Homo sapiens: one gene and its partner. The protein of the gene in region 1 interacts with the protein of each later gene in a pairwise test. Each region holds a gene or a part of one and is shown in the gene's direction. Other genes may lie near its edges.

Region 1 (3,564 bases):
TGTGATAGCTTGCTGAGAATGATGGTTTCCAGCTTCATCCATGTCCCTGCAAAGGACATGAACTCATTCTTTTTTGTGGCTGCATAGTATTCCATGGTGTATATGTGCCACAGTTTCTTAATCCAGTCTATCATTGATGGACATTTGGGTTGGTTCCAAGTCTTTGCTATTGTGAATAGTGCTGCAATAAACATACGTGTGCATGTGTCTTTATCATAGAATGATTTATAATCCTTTGGGTATATGCCCAGTAATGGGATTGCTGGGTCAAATGGTAATTCTAGTTCTAGATCCTTGAGAAATTGCCACACTGTTTTCCACAATGGTTGAACTAATTTACACTCCACCAACAGTGTAAAAGCATTCCTATTTTTCCACAACCTCTCCAGCATCTGTTGTTTCCTGACTTTTTAATGATCACCATCCTAACTGGTGTGAGATGTTATCTCATTGTGGTTTTGATTTGCATTTCTCTAATGACCAGTGATGATGAGTATTTTTTCATAGGTCTGTTGGCTGCATAAATGTCTGCAAGAAGGAAATTTTTATACTTAGAATCTTGCAGCAATCAAAACTGTGAGTGACAGTTACCTCGTTAGTTGGGATTCTGGGGTCACATACCTTCTTTTAGAAATATCCTGTCATGGAAACAACATGCTGGAGAGGATGTGGAGAAATAGGAACACTTTTACACTGTTGGTGGGAGTGTAAATTAGTTCAACCATTGTGGAAGACAGTGTGGCGATTCCTCAAGGATCTAGAACTAAAATACGATTTGACCCAGCAATCCCATTACTGGGTATATATGCAAAGGATTATAAATCATTCTACTATAAAGACACATGCACATGTATGTTTATTGCAGCACTATTCACAGTAGCAAAGACTTGAGACCAACCCAAATGCCCATCAATGATAGACTGGATAAAGAAAATGTGGCACATATACACCATGGAATACTGTGCAGCCATAAAAAAGAATGAGTTCATGTCCTTTTCAGGGACATGGATGAAGCTGGAAACCATTATTCTCAGCAAACTAATGCAGGAACAGAAAACCAAACACCACATGTTCTCACTCATAGGTGGGAGCTGAAAAATGAGAACACATGGACACAGGGAGGGGAACATCACACACTGGGGCCTGTCAGGGGGTGGGGGGCAAGGGGAGGGATAGCATTAGGAGAAATACCTAATGTAGATGATGGGTTGATGGGTGCAGTAAACCACCATGGCACATGCATACCTATGTAACAAACCTGTAGATTCTGCACATGTATCCCAGAACTTAAAGTATAATAAAAAAAGAAATATGTTGTCATATTATATGAAAATGTTATTACTTTGAGCAAGTGTCTTAATGTATCTCAGCTGTCTCTTAGATAAAATGGGAATAATAACAGTGCTCATTTCATAGGGCTGCCAGGAGACTTAAATGATAGCAACATAAAGTGCCTAGCAGAAGTCTGATAGGTAGTCATACTCAATAAAATGCTAATATGAATGTTTTCAAATGAAGAGAAAGATAGAACAATTAGCAGAACTAAATACAGTTCATTCTTATTATCCGAGACTGTTATCATGTCCTTCTTCATAGATTTACAGATTTCTTAAAAATATGTTTCCATTACAGCTCTGTGTCGGAAACCAGAATTAGTGAATGGAAGGTTGTCTGTGGATAAGGATCAGTATGTTGAGCCTGAAAATGTCACCATCCAATGTGATTCTGGCTATGGTGTGGTTGGTCCCCAAAGTATCACTTGCTCTGGGAACAGAACCTGGTACCCAGAGGTGCCCAAGTGTGAGTGGGTAAGTGGCACAATTCAAGGAAGTTCTGTGCTGTCGACCCCTAAAAATGGTGGCATCCCCCAGAGCTCTGTACCACTCAACAATGGTGAAATCTGACTTGTCAGGATTCATTTCTGAGCCACTCCCACTCAAAGAAACTCTTTTTGTCTTGAAGCATTCTGGTAAGTTAGGGGTGGCAAGTTCTCCTGTTCTCACTTGAGAACAGGAAAAACTGAGCCCTTACAGAGCAGGGTTTCATAGACCCAGTAGTACTGATTTCTAGCCTAACTTTTGCTAAGCTATATAATATATTGTTGTTCCATTTCTGGATGGTCAGCAAAAACAGCCTCTGTTACCATGGGGGCCTTCTGGACAGCTGTCTCAGAACAGATCCATGTTCCCCTGGGGAAGACTGTGGTGGGACCCAAGTGATTTCTTGTTTTCCCAGCCTCAACCACCAGTCTGAGGTTGGTCTTGGTTCAATCCTGTAGTCCTTCCACTGTCAGGATCCACCCTCCTTTATGATTAGAAGAGAAGCTTCTCAATCACACCCACCACTTATATCTTTTAGGAGACCCCCGAAGGCTGTGAACAAGTGCTCACAGGCAAAAGACTCATGCAGTGTCTCCCAAACCCAGAGGATGTGAAAATGGCCCTGGAGGTATATAAGCTGTCTCTGGAAATTGAACAACTGGAACTACAGAGAGACAGCGCAAGACAATCCACTTTGGATAAAGAACTATAATTTTTCTCAAAAGAAGGAGGAAAAGGTGTCTTGCTGGCTTGCCTCTTGCAATTCAATACAGATCAGTTTAGCAAATCTACTGTCAATTTGGCAGTGATATTCATCATAATAAATATCTAGAAATGATAATTTGCTAAAGTTTAGTGCTTTGAGATTGTGAAATTATTAATCATCCTCTGTGTGGCTCATGTTTTTGCTTTTCAACACACAAAGCACAAATTTTTTTTCGATTAAAAATGTATGTATAAAAAACTATTTTGTCTTTGTGGTCATTTAGGACTCTGTGAAATAAGCGTCCTTAAAAAACCCATAATATAAAGTTAATACATTAATACATTTGTTTTACTGTTTGGGCCACAAATAATAGGTACTTGGGTTTTCTTTTTTTTTTTTTTTTTTTTGAGACAGACTCTCACTCCGTTGCCCAGGTTGGACTGCAGTGGCACAATCTTGGCTCACTGCAACCTCCACCTCCCAGGTTCACACAATTCTCCTGCCTTAGCCTCCTGAGTAGCTGGGATTACAGGTGTGTGCCATCATGCCCAGCTAATTTTTGTATTTTTAGTAGAGACGGGGTTTCACCACTTTGGCCAGGTTGGTCTCGAACTCCTGACCTCAAGTGATCTGCCCACCTTGGCCTCCCAAAGTGCTGGGATTACCGGTGTGAGCCACCATGCCTGGCCATACTTGGGTTCTTATCGTGGACAGACTGCCTTTACTCCACAGTTTCATGTGTGCACAGCACTCATGTCCTCCCTGGTGAGGTTAAATGTCAACACACCCTCAAAGCCTCCCCCATTCTCCCGCTCTGGGGGAGTCACGCCTTCCCCTGAGCCCCTGTGCACGTTGTCTCTTTGACTCATGCCACATCTCCACTATTGCCTTCCATGAAGGAAGTTTGCTTTTGTGTCTGACTTCCTCATTCCAACCCCAGAGAAGGAACTTCGAAAGACAGATGAAGATGAAGCCCACATGTCAGTCCTCTGCATATTCTCAATTCTTCTATCTGATTTGGTCACCATTTTCCTTAAT
Region 2 (3,824 bases), on another chromosome or scaffold:
AATTCTAATAATTTCTAGAAGAATAAACGCATCTTCTTTTTATTAACCCATTGTAAATACTTATAAATATTGCATTTATGGGTAGACAGAAGTAAAAGAACAATATTTGTTCTACTTTTGATGCAAGATTTATCTGGCATAATGCATTGAACAGTTTATTATTGAAGTCTACACGAGTCAATGGAACAAGCATTCATTGAATGTCCATGATATGCAGGACATAAGAAGGTTTCCTTTTAGAGCATGGAGCCATTTATATCATCTCTTAATTGTTAGATGTATTTTGTTTTGTTTTGTTTTGTTTTTTGAGAGGGAATCTTGCTCTGTTGCCCAGGCTGGAGTGCAGTGGTGCGATCTCCGCTCACTGCAACCTCCCGCCTCCTGGGTTCAAGCAGTTCTCCTGCCTCAGCCTCCCTGTAGCTGGGATTACAGGTGCCTGCCACCATGCCCAGCTAATTTTTGTATTTTTCGTAGAGACAGGGTTTCACTATGTTGGCCAGGCTGATCTCAAACTGCTGACCTCAGGTGATCTGCCCACCTCGGCCTCCCAGAGTGCTAGGATTACAGGCATGAGCCACCGCGCCCAGCCTGTTAGATGTGTTTTAAAATAAATAGAAATATAATTGATTTTCTTGCTTGCTTTTGCTCTGGAGTGGAGTGGAGTGAGGATAAAACAGAATGGAATCACCCTGTTGATATTTACTAAGATAGAAGGACTGCAGCAAGATCATAGCCCTAATCTTCCTGTAGCAAGTGTTACCTGCTAGCTGTTCCTGAATACACTGAGTTTTGCTTTTTCCTAGCTCTAATGAATGTTTCGTTCTTCCTCTTTTTGTACAGTGTCAGCATTGTTTTAGAAATAAATACATTCTAGAATCTTAGGAATAATTTTATTATTGTCTTTTTTTTTTTTTGAGACGGAATCTCATTCTGTTGCCCAGGCTGGAGTGCAATGGCGCAATCTCAGCTCACTGCAACCGCTGCCTCCTGGGTTCAAGCGATTCTCCTGCCTCAGCCTCATGAGTAGCTGGGACTACAGGCGTGCGCCATCACGCCTGGCTAATTTTTGTATTTTTAGTAGAGATGGGGTTTCACCATGTTGGCCAGGCTGGTCTCAAACTCCTGACCTCAAGTGACCCGCCTGCCTCGGCTTCCCAAAGTGTTGGGATTACAGGTGTGAGCCATTGCACCTGGCCACGAATCTTAGAAATAATTTTGGCCATAGGAAAAGGAAAAGTTATACCTCTTATTTTATAGTAATAATGTTTAATAATCAAGTTATTAAACCCATTAAATTGAGAACACTTGTATTACTGTTATTTTGACAGTAAAGGAAGAATGGTATGCCAGAATCACTAAATTAAGAAAGATGGTGGATCAGCTTTTCTGCAAAAAATTTGGTAAGTCTGTTTTTTTTAATTACCCCTTCAACTAAAATGTATTACTGAGTAACATTTTTTTAAATGTTGTTTTATTTTAGGAAAGTAAATACAGTGAATAGGACTCAGCTTTAGTTTTCCCTGTTTTTTTTTTTTGGGTTTTTTTTTTTTTCTTGAGAAGGAGTCTTGCTCTGTTGCCCAGGCTGGAGTGCAGTGGTACGATCTCAGCTCACTGCAACCTCCTCCTCCCGGGTTCAAGCAATTCTCCTGCCTCAGCGTCCCAAGTAGCTGGGATTACAGGTGCCCGCCACCACGCCTGGCTAACTTTTGTATTTTTAGTAGAGATGGGGTTTCGCCATGTTGGCCAGGCTGGTCTCAAACTCCTGAATTCAGGTGATCCACCCGCCTCAGCCTCCTAAAGTGCTGGGATTATAGGCGTGAGCCACCGCGCCCGGCCCCCATTCTATGAATTATCTGTGGAAAGTTATTTCCTTTAAAATGGCATGCTCGTGAGGTTGAAGGGGTAAAGAACATTGATCTGGTTGCCACGCAGATGAAAGTGTAGTCGGAAATGTGTTACCAGTTTGCCATAGCCGATGGAGGAGGGTAATTACGGTCCTGAACAGTTAGTAGCAAAAGGCTGCTTCCAGATAGTATTTAGGTTGTGTCCTCTATTGTCCATGATGATTTTCTTTCTCTCTTTTCTTCCTAAGGATATTGAAAAACAAACTTTAATCTTTTAAAGATCTCAGAGCTATTAAGATTGTCTTAGGACCAGGACACTTAAATCTGCCCAAATCTGGCTGTTGATGATCGGTCATCTCTACTTGTCTTTGCTGTATTAAGTCTATTCAATAGTTAATAAATATGTTTCTAGAAAGAGTTTTTTTCAAGTAAAACAAAATTGACCTGTGCCTTTCTTTGGATTGTACTAAAATCTGATTTCAATACAAATGTAGTCTCCCGAATTGCTTTGATTTTTGTCCAGCGGAAGCCTTGGGGAGCACTGAAGCCAAGGCTGTACCGTACCAAAAATTTGAGGCACACCCGAATGATCTGTACGTGGAAGGACTGCCAGAAAACATTCCTTTCCGAAGTCCCTCATGGTATGGAATCCCAAGGCTGGAAAAAATCATTCAAGTGGGCAATCGAATTAAATTTGTTATTAAAAGGTAAGATGATAATCTGTAGAAATAGTTTCAGTGTCTTCCCTGAGAAGAGGTTAATTTGATGAAGAAGGGCCTTTTGTTTACCTTATGACTTATTTCTATTGACAATGAAGGCATTAATATTTAGATTCACTTAGTGAACAAATATTAGTATAAGCATCAGATGTGCAAAATTGGGTCTAACAAGAACACTGTCCTTGGGGCCTTCATACAAAGAAAAATGCACTGAAGGCCGGGCGCGGCAGCTCACGCCTGTAATCGCAGCACTTTGGGAGGCCAAGGCAGGTGGATCACTTGAGGTCAGGAGTTCAAGACTAGCCTGGCCAACATGATGAAGCCCCATCTCTAGTAAAAATACAAAAATTAGCTGGAAGCGGTGGTGCAAGCCTGTAGTCCCAGCTACTCGGGAGGCTGAGGTTGGAGAATCACTTGAACCCTAGAGGCGGAGGTTGCAGTGAGCCGAGATCGTGCCACTGCACTCCAGCCTGGGCAACAGAGCGAGACTCCATCTCAAAATAATTAAAAAAAAAAAATAGAAAAATGCAATGAAGTGTTATTGAGCGTTTTTAAGGGAGAAGGCAAGGATGGCACACCCAGCTCGGTCACTTGTGCATCCAGAAGAGATGGAAGGTGTTTCAAGTGAAGGAAATCATATGAGTAGGGGGAGGAGGTGGCAAATATGCCTGCGTATCCACAGAACTCACCCACCGTGTGTGGAGTGAGGACTGCCACGTGGGCGTGGTGGGGTTGCATGGATCGACTTGGGTGGGCAAGTGGAGGAAGGCCTGAGATCCTACGAACACAGAGGCAGTCACGAAGTGGTCTCGAGGCAGATGCCTCTGAAAATAATGTGGATCCGCCCTTTAGAAAGGTAATTCTGGCTTGATTTTGAAGGATAACACAATGGTTAGTTTGGGTGCGGGGTTAGGAACAGAAGGCCTCTCTCCACTCATTGACGGGATGTGGAAGGGTAAACCTTCCTTACTGATTGGGGTCATGCCTCTGTGTGTTTGTTGGGACTGAGTTATAAGGGATAGGAAACGTTTAAGATGCTACAGCGAGCTGCTTCTGGCTGTGCTGTGGGACAGTTCATGTAAGATTCAGAAACAGAATTGAGCTGGTTTGGGGGAAAAGTGACTTTCGCCTGTTTATCTTAAATATAGGATGATTTTGAAGGTCTCACCCGAATATCTGAAAATTGCCATTTTCAAAATAAACTCGTCACCAAAATGATTTTTTTTTCACTATAAAATGAAGGCAGGATGAACCATATTTA

What was found.
Region 2: the proteins of C4BPA (region 1) and GTF2I interact in a two-hybrid assay, tested with the Homo sapiens proteins (one large-scale study listed by BioGRID and IntAct).

The regions. Positions count from the first base shown.
Region 1 is NC_000001.11:207,142,186-207,145,749, forward strand, and holds the end of C4BPA (C4b-binding protein alpha chain precursor), read left to right. Parts: intron 1-1,632; coding exon 1,633-1,808; intron 1,809-2,358; coding exon 2,359-2,532; 3' UTR 2,533-2,787; downstream 2,788-3,564. UniProt on the Homo sapiens protein: Controls the classical pathway of complement activation. It binds as a cofactor to C3b/C4b inactivator (C3bINA), which then hydrolyzes the complement fragment C4b.
Region 2 is NC_000007.14:74,734,133-74,737,956, forward strand, and holds part of GTF2I (general transcription factor II-I), read left to right. Parts: intron 1-1,328; coding exon 1,329-1,400; intron 1,401-2,367; coding exon 2,368-2,551; intron 2,552-3,824. UniProt on the Homo sapiens protein: Interacts with the basal transcription machinery by coordinating the formation of a multiprotein complex at the C-FOS promoter, and linking specific signal responsive activator complexes.